Homo sapiens: one gene and its partner. The protein of the gene in region 1 purifies or fractionates together with the protein of each later gene. This does not show direct contact. Each region holds a gene or a part of one and is shown on either strand. Other genes may lie near its edges.

Region 1 (7,026 bases):
GGCCACTGTCCACAGTGGCTGGGGAGGCTACCCCTTCTCAGAAGGCCCACAAGCCAGCAGTGCCTACCTACCCCTGGGGCAGGGGCTGCCACAGGCCAAGTCTGCAGCCTGTGGGAGGGTCTGGGGCTGGCCCTGGCCTTGAGGTCAGTGGGGAAGCAGGATGCTCCCTCTGTGGTTTCAGAAGAGAAGCTTCTGTCTGACAGCATGCTGGTGGAGGCGCGGGAGGCCTCGGAGGAGGACCTGCTGGTGGTGCACACGAGGCGCTATCTTAATGAGCTCAAGGTACAGGATGTCGGGCCTGGGGGGCTGCGGGCCTGGGGCAGGGGGCTGCTGGCCAGGAGTGGCCAGAGGCAGGAGGTGACTCAGCCTGGGGAAGCCAAGTCTCACAGGGCACCCATTCATGTCCCTAGTGTTGGAGGAACATGGGAGTCTGTGGTCCCCAAGAGAAGGAGAGAGGTCATAAAAAGGCAGACCTCAGTTTGGGCCAGGCCACTCTGAGGGTGGTGTCCTCCCCTTCTCCAGGGCGTATGAAAGCCTTCATAGAATTTTAGGCTTCTACATTATGACTTTCAAGCTGTGCTCTGTCGACACGCCTCCGAGACCCCAGCCCCTGTCCTCCAACCATACATAGCTCTTTCACTTTGGTCTATTTTGTTTGTTTGTTTGTTCATTTTTTTGTTGGTTTTTGTTCTTGAAATGGAGTCTCACTCTGTCGCCCAGGCTGGAGTGCAGTGATGTGATCTCGGCTCATTGCAACCTCCGCCTTCCGGGTTCAAGCAATTATCCTGTCTCACCCTCCTGAGTGAGTAGCTAGGATTACAGGCGCGTGCCACCATGCCTGGCTAATTTTTTTTGTATTTTAGTAGAGATGTGGTTTCGCCGTGTTGGCCAAGCTGGTCTCGAACTCCTGAACTCAGGTCATCTGCCCACCTCGGCCTCCCAAAGTGCTGGGGTTACAGGCGTGAGCCACCGCACCCACCCTATTTTTTATATTGGGCTGAAGTTTAAGACTCTGGTCTAAGTACTTCTGCTGAAGTTTTGTTGAAAATTGTTGGTCTAAAAACTAATTTGAAACCCTCAGGGCTCAGCAGAGAAGAGAAACAAGTGGGAGGGCCGGTGGTAGAGTCTGAGGTGAACTCCTGCCCCTTCCCAAGGGGCGGCTCCTCAGCTCCACTGTGGGCCCGGCATGGCCAGAGCACCTGGTCTTCAAAGAGAAGCCAGGAATCCAGATTATTAAGTGACATTTCCTGATTTTTTTTTTGAGACTGAGTCTCGCTCTTGTTGAGCAGGCTGAAGTGCAGTGGCACGATCTCAGCTCACTGTAACCTCCGCCTCCCGGGTTCAAACAATTTTTCTGCCTCAGCCTCCGAAGTAGCTGGAATTATAGGGGTGAGCCACCACACCCGGCCCTGATTTCTTAATGTGGCACTCATTATAAGATTGTAAAAGCCCACCTGTAGACCAAACTGGGCACACTGGCTGCCTGCTTGTGACCTCTTTCCAGAGAAGGACACAGCTCCTATTAGTGGCTGAAGTTCTGAGGGCTGAGGCATTCAGTTCAGTGCTCTTTGTAGGAACAGAGGGGAGGTTGGGGCGGGGGCTTGCATTGGAATCTGGTACTGCCAGCCTGCCTTGGTGGGGGTGGGGTCAGGGATGCCTCAGGTTATCTGCCCCAAGAGTGTGGGAGCCCTGACCCCCAGGCTCCCTGGCTGAGCTCACCTTAGACTCAGAGCCACAGTGGATGCCTGAGGCCAGCAGGCCCCTCTGCTCCACAGGTGGAAAAGCCTAGGTCCAGAAAGAGGCTGTGCTCAAGGTCACCTGGGAAGTTGGCCGGGCCTTGGGGAGACCCCTGGCAGGTCATCCAGTCCAGTCTTCTAGGTTCCCAGTCAGGGCTGCTGCCTCCCTGCTCCCCAACCGCAGCCTGAGGTGTGAGAATTCTAGATAGGGCCACGACAGTGTGAGCACATGAAAGATTACCAGGAAGAGGTTGAAACCTGGCTCCTGGGAGAGAGAGGGGTGTGAGGCCTTGGCAGGAAGCCCAGTGCTTGGCTGCCCTGGTTTCCTGGGGCCCAGGCATGCGTGGTCACAGTCCACAGCCTAGGGCTGGGCCAGGAGGACATGCCTGCCAGAGTCCCGAGGGTGAGGGGAAGGAAGGGACAGGAGGCGCTCAGCTGGGGCAGGGAGAAACCAAAACAGAATGGTGTGATTGAACCAGGCTGGGGGTGGGGGGCCTAGGTTCCAGGGCCCCACCCATTTGAGGGGCCTTCAGGGGAACTGTGTTGGGCAGGCTGCATGCCTGGCCTTGGTCCCCCAAAAGCCTGAAAGCAGCTTACTATGTGATATATAATAATACAAAATAGCTGGGTGTAGTGGCATGCACTTGTAGTCCTAGCTACTTGGGAGCCTGAGGCAGGAGACCTTGAGCCCAGGAGTTTGAAGCTGTAGTGAGCTATGATTGCACCACTGCACTCCAGCTGGTATGACAGAGTGAGACTGTCTCTTAAAAAAAATAATAAAAGTATTAACAGGTAGAGTCCCAAGTAGAAAACTGAGGTTGAGGGTAGGAGGAGAATTCAGGTATGTCCACTGAAAAAGTTAACCAAGATGGTGATCCAGCTGCATATTTGGCTTGGAGCTCCCTGGCAGTCAGAACAAAAGGAGAAACATGATGGTTTCTACGGCACCTATTAAGATGAAGAAGTAGGCCGGGTGCAGTGACTCATGCCTGTAATCCCAGCACTTTGGGAGAACGAGGCGGGCGGATCACTTGAGGTCGGGAGTTTGAGATCAGCCTGGCCAACATGGAGAAACCCTGTCTCTACTAAAACTACAAAATTAGCCAGGCATGGTAGTGCATGCCTGTAATCCCAGCTACCTGGGAGGCTGAGGCAGGAAAATCACTTGAACCTGGGAGGTAGAGGTTGCAGTGAGCCGAGATTGCGCCATTGCACTCCAGCTTGGGCAATAAGAGTGAAACTCCATCTCAAAAAAAAAAAAAAAAAAAAAAGAAAAAGATGAAGAAGTAGTCAGTCATTCAACACATCTGTATTGAATGCCAACTGTACAGAGAGAATAAGACAGCAGGGCTCTCTGCCACCATGGATTTGCATTTGAGTCGTGGAAGATTAAAATTAAGGAAGCAACCACCCAAGAGCATTTTAGAGAGCACCAAGGGCTATGAAGAAAGTGAAAAATAGAGGGTAATTGGATGGTCAGGGAGGGCCTCACAGAGGAGGTGATGTTTGAGTTGAGACTAAACAAAGGAGCAGGTGATACTCATGTAGAGGTGTTTTTTTTTTTTTTTTTTTTTTTTGGAGAAGGAATCTCGCTTTGTTGCCCAGGCTCGAGTACAGTGGTGCGATCTCAGCTCACAGCAACCTCTGCCTCTTGGTTCAAGCGATTCTCCTGCCTCAGCCTCCCAAGTAGCTAGGATTACAGGCACCTGCCACCATGCCCGGCTAATTTTTGTATTTTTAGTAGAGACGGAGTTTTCACCATGTTGGCCAGGCTGGTCTCGAACTCCTGACCTCAAGCAATCCATCTGCCTCGGCCTCCCAAAGTGCTGGGATTACAGGCATGAGCCACTGCTCCTGGCCCTCATGTATAGCTTTGAAGGAAGAATGTTTCAGAATCCCAGGCCTGGAGGGTGGAGGGGACTTGATCTTCCAAAGGGGAGAAGAATGCTTGGGAGGCCGGATGGAAGGGAATAAAACATTGTGGCTCGTACACGGTGCAGTTAGGGAGGCCAGAGCCCCAGGCCACACAAGGTCTTGCAGGCCGTGGGAGGAGTGTATATGTTGTTCCAGGGACCTTGGACAGTCACGAGGGGGTTTTCAGCAGGAGGGTGATATGGTGTGACATGCCCTTGCTGCCCAGGTGGGACCCAAGCCCGTTTCAGACATCATCTGGCACCTAAGGCTGCAGCTCAGGAACATCTCCCACCTCCCTGCAGATGTCTGCAATGTTTCTTTTCTCCTTCCTCTGCTGTGGGCGCCCAGAGAGTGCCCTAGAGAGTCCTTCAGGTTTCTCAGGCTGCTTTTCCCTGGTCATTCTGTGTGTGCTGTGTAACATCCACCGTCTCCCCTGCCTCATCCCATTCTACCCCCAACCCCTGCCTGGGGCTCATGCCTGACTCTGCACTGGTGTGGCCTTTGATACTTAATAAACAGGGCACTGAAGGAGAAGCAGGAGCTGGACGTTTGCAAGATGTCAATTCAGGGAAACCCATGTTTATCAAGCTCCTGCTGTGTGCAAGGTCCAGGGTTGGCCCCTCTGAGGGTAGCTGTTGAGCTCCCCAGTGCCCCAGCACTGGGCTCTTGCCTTTGGTTGATTCTCGGGTGACAGTTTGCCATGGAGTGTCGGTTAGTGCTGGGCAGCATCTGACATCCTGCCCCTGTGCACTCTGCACTGGACAGTGCTCAGAACACGTGGATCCAGCAAGTGCTCAGAGGGCACCACTCTGTGATCTAGGTGCTGCAGGGATGGGATGGAGCAAAAGACCACATCCCTTTCCTGCTGGAGCTGGCATTTAGGTGGGAGAGTCAGACAATAAATGTAATAATTAAGTAATGAGATAATATGTTAGATGGTGCTGAGTGTCGTGAAGAAAGGAAGGGACAGCAGAAAAGGGGTGGGGAGAGCTGGTGAGAGGATGGCAGTTTTAAATCAGGAGTCAGGAAAGGGCTTACTACCTGTGATCACAGGTGACATGTGGGAAGGGAGTGAGGGAGTGGGTGATGTGGTCATCTGGGGAAGGGCATTCCAAGCAGAAGAAACAGCAAGTGCAAAGATCCCAGGGCAGAACTATCTGTCATGAGTTCCAGTATAGTGTGGAGAGAAGGAGACACAGACCATAGCTCCATGGAGCACCTGGAGGGACCCTGGAGAGTCTCTAGGGGAGTGAGCTCCTCTTGGTCTCCAACTCTCTCTTCTCTTCCCTGAGGGGCTCCTCTCTCCTTTAAAAAAAAATTTTTTTTAATTGTGGTAAAATTTACATAACAAAATTCGCCATTAACCACTTTAAACTGTACAGTTCAGTGGCCTTTAGTCCATTCACAAAGTGCTGCAACCATCATCTCTAGTTCCAAACATTTTCATCACTCCAAAAGGAAACCCTGTGTCCTTTAAACACTTGCTCCCCATTTATCCCCCCAAGTCCCCTTGGTAATCACTCACCTGCATTCTCTCTCTATGGATTTGCCTATCCTGGATATTTCATATAAATGGAATCATACAATATGTGACCTTTTGTGTCTGGCTTATCTCACTAAGCACAGCGTTTTCAACATTCATCTGTGTTGTGTTGTAGCATGTATCAGTACTTCATTCCTTTTCACAGCAGAATGATATTCCATTGTAAAACACTACATTTTTTTTATCCATTCATTAGTTTATAGGCCTTTTGGCTATTGTGAGTAGTGTTGCTGTGGACATGTGCATACGAGTATTTATTAGAATACCTGTTTTCAGTTATTTGGGGTATACACCTAGGAGTAGAATTACTGGGTCACATGGTAATTCTGTTTAATTTTCTGAAGAACCATCAAGGTGATCTCCACGGGGGCTGCACCATTTCCACCAGTAATGTACCAGGGTCCCAATTTCTCTACATCCTTTTCAATGCTTGTTATTTTCTGGTGTTTTTTTTTTTCCCCCCCAGTGTGGCCATCTTACTGGATGTGAAGTGGTATCTCATGGTTTTAATTTGCATTTACCTAATGGCTAATTAACACTGAGGATCTTTTCATGTGCTGATTGGCTATTTGTATATGTCATTTGGAGAAATGTTTATTCAAGTCCTTTGTCCATTTTTAAAATTGGCTTGTCTTTTTGTTGAGTTGTAGGGTTCTTTATATATTCTGGATATTATTTAATTTGTAAATAACTCCTCCCATTCTGTGGGTTGTCTTTTTTTTGATAGTGTCCTTTGATGCACAAAAATTTTAGTTTTGCTGAAGTCCAATTTATCTTTTTTTCCTTTTCTTTAGGTGTCATATCTAAGAATCCATTGCCAAACCCAAGGTCATGAAGGTTTACCGCATGTGTTTTCTTCTAAGAGTTTTATAGTTTTCACTTATATTTAGGCCTTGATAAATTTTGAGTTAATTTTTGTATATGTGTGAGGCAAGTCCAACTTCATTGTTTTGTACTCAGATATCCAGTTATCCCAGCACCATTTGTTAGGCTGTTTTTCCCCTGTTGAATGGTCTTGGTACCTTTGTAGAAAATCAACTGGCCATAGATGTATGGATTTATTTCTAGACTCTCAATTCTATTCATTTTTTTGGTTTGTTTGTTTAAGAAAGGGTTGCATTCTTTCGACAGCCCAGGCTGGAGTACGGTGGCTCCATCTTGGCTCACTGCAACCTCCGTCTCCTGGGTTCAAGCAATTCTCCCATCTCAGCCTCCCAGGTAGCTGGGACTACAGGCGTGTGCTACCATGCCTGGCTAATTTTTGTGTTTCTTGGTAGAGATGGGGTTTCACCATGTTGGCTAGGCTGGTCCTGAATTCGTGACCTCAAGTGATTTGCTCACCTCGGCCTCTCAAAGTACTGGGATTACAGGCATGTGTGAGCCACTGCGCCCAGCCAATTCTATTCATTTGATCTATATGTCAATACCACACTATTTTGGTACTGTTACTGTGGCTTACTGTGGTTATTGTGGCTTTGGAGCAAATTTTGAAATTCCAGATTGTGAGGCCTCCAACTTTGTTCTTTTTTTTTTTTTGAGACGCAGTCTCGCTTTGTCGCCTATGCTGGAGTGCAATGGCGCGATCTCGGCTCACTGCAACCTCCGCCTTCTGGTTTCAGGTGATTCTCCTGCCTCAGCCTCCCGAGTAGCTGGGATTACAGGCGCCCGGCACCACGCCTAGCTAATTTTTCTATTTTTAGTAGAGATGAGGTCTCACCATGTTGGTCAGGTTGGTCTCAAACTCCTGACCTCATGATCTGCCTGCCTCTGCCTCCCAAAGTGCTGGGATTACAGGCATGAGCCACCGTGCCCAGCCAACTTTGTTCTTTTTTA
Region 2 (7,026 bases), on another chromosome or scaffold:
TAAGATAAAATTAACAGAGCAAATACAGTGCATGACACTGTTCTGCATATTATGTCCTGATCAAGGGTACACATGGGCCTGCTCACAGTCCCACTTTATTAGAGTCATTTGAAATGCTGCAAATTTAGTCGTCAGGAAAATACAACAAAGGATATATTTAAAAATTAATTTAATGCTTGGCTAAATCTTAATTACATATATAATTATCAAACGATAGTCCTTAATTTCCAAAAAAATTCCTCTTTTGAAAATCACAGAATCAGAAAGCATAAACTTTAAAACAAGTTCTCTGAATATTTACAATGTGGTATAAACATTATAGAAGACCATGGATATTAAATTGCCTGGGTGTGGCTAATCAGCAAGGCGTATTCTTTATTGCATATTTAACTCACATATGTGGGATTTTAAATATGACAGACTACTAAAATTCAAATGCATGTATCTGCAAGCTGGGCAGGGAGTAAAATCATGAATGAGACAGGACGGTCAGCCCAAAACCATGCAATTAGGTTGTGGGTTTATTATTTTCAAAAGTGAAATTTCTATGTTCCATTTGAAACTATGTTGCATATTCATTTAGCATTCACATTAAACCCACATTTGACTCTAACGCTGATTCAAGGAAGAAAGTTCAACATTCACTCAATGACTAAGTCCACAACTCAACTCTCAATGTTAAGGCAGCACAGCTACAGTGATAGCAACGCTAACCAAAAGGTAATGAACATTTAGTCACTTGCCAGCCCTTTTGTTACAACAGTGTAGTAATTTCCCTAAGACAATTTGCTACCGGATAATTTTCTGCTGTTAAAAGGCTTCCTCTGTGGAAAAACACCACAAATTTCCAGTGTGAAAGTAAGTCCATGGTGGTATAAATATATATATGCATAATTACACAATTTACACTGCACACATCGTTTACAGGGGACAATTAACTGAGAGGGTTAATTTAAATGACCATACAAAATACTTCAGTAAACAAAGTATGACAGGCAGTAAAGAAAACATTCATAGACTCCTAGAAATAATCTGAATTCCTTTCATTCTGAAGAAATATCATTTAAGGACACAGTATTGAATATAATGTTTTTTGTATTAAAACAAGAATTGCTATTTTACAGTTTAAGAAACTTTACATATATACAAAATTTACACATTGGGAATGGTAATCAAGCAAATAGGTTTTTCAGTCTCATAGATCTATTTTCCTTCGATCAAAGACTTAAATTCTTTCACATTGTGGTCACTTGCAACAGACATAGCATGATCCAAAGCTCGAACACTTGCAAGGAGTTTTACTATCTGTTTTATGTTTTCCCTAAAAGAAAAAAATATAGCAGCATCTCATTAATTAGTATATCTAAGAGAAAATTTGCTACTGATTTCATGGCTATTTTAGAGCTTCTGCAATCAATTTTTCCAAGCACACATTTTCAAAGAAAGGAAACAGATATGCAAGCTACAGCATGTTAAAAAAAAAAAAGTTTACATTTATCCATATAGAACAAAACTTACATATGTTTAAATGACTAGCCCAGAGACAGGGGACCCATTTTAAAAAAGCAAAACAAAATTCATTGAGATCAATGAGTTTCATTAATATTGAGAAAGAAAAGAAAGCAATCTGTTTTCAAACTACTTCAGAGGCCTGTCTCCCATTCCTTCCCAAACCAGAGTCCTGGCTGTTTTAGCGTATACCTGGAACACAAATCGTTATTTGTGTCTCTTCATCACCAATCTGTCAAGATCCAGCATAATTTCCACTCCACCAAAATTCACTAAATAAAGTATAATCTGACTTTCCTTATCACTCCAGCTAGAAGTCATTCTGCTTTCTTACTAGGAAGTAATCCTCAAATTTTAGCACACATTAGAATTACCTAGAGGATTGTTGAAATGCAGATCATCCCTGGCCCCACCCCAAGAGTTCTATTCAAGAGGCCCAGAGTGGGGCCCCGAGAACTTGCAAGTCTATCAGACTCCCATGCCATGCTGATACTGCTGGTCCAGGGACCACACTTTAAGAATGACTGTTTTAACATTTAGCTTAAACCACTCACGAGAAACAAGACATAATATGACATTAGTAATTGTCTCATCTCTTCTACAGAATTGTAGTAAGCACCTATTAGGGAAGAATTAGAATTTGCAAAACTTTCCAACCCACATGAAACCTGCTTTATGTGCACTGCACAAAGCAGGTGCTTACATAGCTGTTAAAGTTCTTTTCTGTAGAAAAGTAAACACTATTTGTTGATATTTAACTTCCAAACAGAAACACTGTTAAATATATGTAAATCAAAGTTTAAAATGTGATAAAATTTATCTAGTAGAAAACACAGAGAAAAAAATATTAGTGCCAACAAATAACAAAATGGCACACACTAAGAACAAAATCAAATCAGCCAAAACCTGCCAAAGAATTTTACCATTAAAATCTTTTTTGTTGTTGTTTTTTGAGACGGAGTGTTGGTCTTTCACCAGGCTGGAATGCAGTGGCGCAATCTCAGCTCACTGCAACCTCTGCCTCCCAGGTTCAAGCAATTCCCCTGCCTCAGCCTCCCGAGTAGGTGGGACTATAGGCACGCACCACCACACCCAGCTAATTTTTGTATTTTTAGTAGAAACAGGGTTTCACCATGTTGGCCAGGATGGTCTCCATCTCCTGACCTCATGATCCACCTGCCTCAGCCTCCCAAAGTACTGGGATTACAGGCATGAGCCACCATGCCTGGCCTAAAATCTTTAATAGCTACTTTAATTTTATTGTGGAAAAAATATCCAATTTTCTTGCAGGAAAATAGGTCCTTTTTCAAGAAAGGGGAATGAGGGATCAGAAGAAGGTTTTGTTATAGGGGTATGACTAATGGTGTGATCTAAACAAAAATTAGACTTTGACATTATGAAGATATATGAAATTAAAATTTTAAAAAGACAATTCCTTCAAACTGCCCTACTTAGTGTTATTATTTACTTTTTATGCTAGAGATTTATCCCAGAATTACCTGAACACCCATAAATTAATGTCCACAGAAAGGCTAATGGTTCACTCACTCTTTTCTTACAACCCTTGATAAAAATTAGAAATAAGTTGCCCCAAAAAGCCATGAGTGATAACCTCTAGTTCATAATATTGATTAAAACAAAAAATCTCCCCAAATTGGGAGATAAACTTGAATTTAAATCTGCATAATGAAACTCCAAACAAGAGAGTCTGAGACCTCTCTAATTCTTCAAAGAGGGAGACAGAGAAAACAACCGTTTACTCACTCCCCTGAGGGTTGGTCCTTACCAGAAGTCTTTCCTTAGTATCTTCATAAATAACATACTGAAAAAAAGTAAAAACTGCTAAAATGAAAAATTATGTGCATTTTTGGTAGGTTTATAATACTAAGTGAACATACAATTTAAACTAAAATATAAACATCTCTACTTAAAACATTTTAATACTAAATCTGGCAACTAAACAACTCTAGATTACCATTTCATTAATTACAAAATTACCTTGCATTTCTTTTTTCCACATCAGAACACCCGATACTATTTCTATAAATTGTATCCGCTAAGTGTACAAGGTATCGGCAAAAGTTTTCTAACTGAGAAATAGTCCTTTCTCCTTTCAGATTCATGAACCATTGTTTGGGGAAACAATTGATTACCTGTGGAGAAGAAAGACGTAAAATAAAATAGTTAAGACAGAATAAATTAAAGTATTAAAAGCAAAGTCTAGTTAATGGGTATAAATGTATTTCACCAGAAGACGTGCTTCTGAGCTACAGCAATTACTCTGAAGAAATATTCTTTTAAATCTGACTTCCTACATTAACTAAACCAATATACCTAAATTTTTACCCCAACCAATGGGTTAGGCACTCAAAGCAAAAGATAATCTGTCCAATATTTGAGTAAATTAGTAACATAAAACTGACAACCAACTGCTTCATTTTCCAGTCTTCTAGGATGGCCTAAATATACTGAATTTCCTTTTCCAGCAGCTTTTGATGTAAAAATGAGTGGTATAAAAATGAAATTACAGCACCCCCATCCCCTGCAATAATTCCACGAATAGACATCCATGCATGCTGCTAAGGGAAGTCGAGTTGGCCCAGACTGAGGTTAAGATAATAAGGTTATTATTCTGAAATCAAAACTTTTATTTATACCTATAAAAATATCAAAACTTTCACTAATATCTATAAAAATATGGATATAGATGGATATATATATATATAACAGTATGCATTTTTATGTAAAAAATGCTGTAGGGGGTTGGAACTACCTGGGTAGGCAAACTGTCAACCTTACATGCAAGTCCAGTAATCAAAGGGGTTTCATAAAATTCTCAAATCCCTCTTCAAACAAACAAAAACTTAATTCATTTTAAATTATATGCTTTAAAAACTGTACTATGCATTTAACTCACATTTTGGGCTTTTTTGATGCTGTCATCTCCATATTCTGAATTCTGAAAAGCCATGAGAATATATCGATTTAATAAACCATCTATTGATAACTCTTGCAGAGTTTTATTTGAGAAAATGCCATACCACTGAAGAAAATTGCCTAACAGCTGGAAAGAAGAAAAAAAATAGGTAATGTGAAACAATTAGATTAGGTACAAAGTAAATAAGTTACATAGTAAAACACCATATGAAATACAGCAGACCATGTCTTGCCAAAGTACTAAGAAATATTAATACTTTCAAAGGTACAGATATTTCCTAGAATGGTTACATTTGAATATTCAATTTTAATTAGTCAAAATCGAAACAGCCACATGTAGCTAGTGGCTACAGCACTGGTCAGCACAGATACAGAACATTTTCCATCATTGCAGACAGTACTATCAGGGAGTGCTGAGTCTTAGGTAAGTGTCCTCCATTCAAAATTACACTCTAGCTGGTTCTATGCACACCCCCACCCCGCCCCGCGCTGCCCACAAAAGATGGGAGAGTCTGACTACAACCCTGCATGGCTACCATGTATCATGAACTACAACCAAGTTATATCACTTATGCATCTCAAGCTACCCAAGCTCAATCAATATATAGAAAATGAAAGCTATCATCATAAAATGAAAGCCCCATCCCATCCCACCATAAAAACTTATAGTTTCCCAGTTGTTTCTCAACTTAGTAAATGGTAACACTATTCAACCAGCTGCTTGCGGCAGAGGTCTGGAGGTCATTCCTGACCTCTCTCTCAAGTTGTGTGTCTCCACGACCATCCAGTCTGTCCATTTCCCTCAGTTCCTGCTGCCATCCTCCGAATCTGACCCACCTTAATCTCTTCAGAACCCTGCAGTTACTCCAGTGATTATGAGCAAGAGCACTGAGTAGCCTTTCTGAAGCAGGGCTCTGCAAGAGTTCTAAACCTACAGAAAATGATTTGTGTGGCTCTTTACTCAGTTCTCCCAAGAATGATACATAGCTAGTACTGTTACAGATGCAGGGGAAAAAGAAGAATTCATTATAGACAATGGAGGCCTTAGGGCATTAGGTATTAAGTCTCCCACAGAAGCCCAGTTGAGAAGAGCAGCTCAAGAGTCAGACTGGCTGAGTTTGATTCCCATCTCTAATTACCAATGGAATGACCTTGTGCAGGTTATTGTGTGCCTCACTACCCCATCAGTAAAGTGAAAAAACAGCGTGTACCTCATTGAGCCATTCTGAGGATTCAACAAGATAATCTATGTAAAAGGTGCGGGACAGTGCTTGGTACATAGTAAACACACAGTAAGTACTAGTTCCCATAAAATACACAATAAATACCAGTTCCCATTTTCACTATCACTATCCATACCTACTTCAATCTATTATCTCCACATAGCAGACAGAGTAATCTTAAAAATGGTAATTTATAGACCTGTGGTTACGGCCGGGCGCGGTGGCTCACACCTGTAATCCCAGCACTTTGGGAGGCTGAGGCGGGCAGATCACGAGGTCAGGAGATCGAGACCATCCTGGCTAACATGATGAAACCCCGTCTCTACTAAAAATACAAAAAAGTAGCCGGGCGTGGTGGTGGGCGCCTGTAGTCCCAGCTACTCGGAAGGCTGAGCCAGGCAATTTATGGCTGGGCACAGTGGCTTATACCTGTAATCCCAGTACTTTGGGAGGCCAAGGAAGGAGGACCACTTGAGCTCAGGAGTTTGAGACCAGCCTAGGCAACACAAGACCTCGTCTCTTTAAAAAAAAAAAAAAAAAAAAAAAAAAAAAGGCAATTTGTTTACTTACCTTAAACCCTTCCATGACACATATAGTTAACTGGTTTTCAACAAAGGCACAAAAGCAATTCAATGGACTGTGAAAGGGAAATATCTTGGGCCTCTTCAAGCTGGGGACCCCGCTGAGGGCAAATCTGCCTCCCATTCTATTCAAAGTCATCTCTCAGCTCACAGAGATAGATGCATATTCTGATTGCCTCTTCTGGAAAAACTTATCAGAAACTCCAAAGAATGCAACCATCCCTCTCTCACCTACATGTGACCTGGAAGTCCCCAATGGGGGGGCCTTGCTTTGAGCTGTCTCCACCTTTCTGGATGGAACTAATGTATTTCTTACATATTGATTGATGTCTCGTGTCTCCCTAAAATGTATAAAACCAAGCTGTGCCCCGACCACCTTGGGCACATGTCATCAGAACTTCCTAAGGCTGTGTCACAGGTGTGTCCTCAATCTTGGCAAAATAAACTTTCTAAATTAACTGAGACCTGTCTCAAATTTTTGGTGTTCATAGGACAAAGGAATTTTTGGTGTTCACAGAAAAGGCTATCGCCTTTTCAACAAATAGTGCTGGAACAAGTAAACCTTAATCCAGGCCTCACACCCTATAATAAAAATTAACCTGAAAAGAGTCACAGACCTAAATGTAAAACCTAAAACTATGAAACTTCTAGAAGAAAGGATAGGAGAAAACCTTTGTGGCTTCATATTAGGCAAAGATTTCTTAGATATGACATCTAAAGCACAATCCATAACAGGAAAAAAAGATCAACTGGACTTCATCAAAATTAAGAACTTC

What was found. Proteins that work in one complex are often made in the same cells at the same time.
Region 2: the proteins of HDAC11 (region 1) and PAXBP1 purify together in Homo sapiens (co-immunoprecipitation; 4 studies listed by BioGRID and IntAct, with this or other methods). This does not show direct contact.

The regions. Positions count from the first base shown.
Region 1 is NC_000003.12:13,483,283-13,490,308, forward strand, and holds part of HDAC11 (histone deacetylase 11), read left to right. Parts: intron 1-181; coding exon 182-282; intron 283-7,026. UniProt on the Homo sapiens protein: Responsible for the deacetylation of lysine residues on the N-terminal part of the core histones (H2A, H2B, H3 and H4).
Region 2 is NC_000021.9:32,733,747-32,740,772, forward strand, and holds the end of PAXBP1 (PAX3- and PAX7-binding protein 1), read right to left. Parts: intron 4,596-7,026; exon of another isoform or gene 4,574-4,595; coding exon 4,427-4,573; intron 3,663-4,426; coding exon 3,508-3,662; intron 1,322-3,507; coding exon 1,204-1,321; 3' UTR 153-1,203; downstream 1-152. UniProt on the Homo sapiens protein: Adapter protein linking the transcription factors PAX3 and PAX7 to the histone methylation machinery and involved in myogenesis.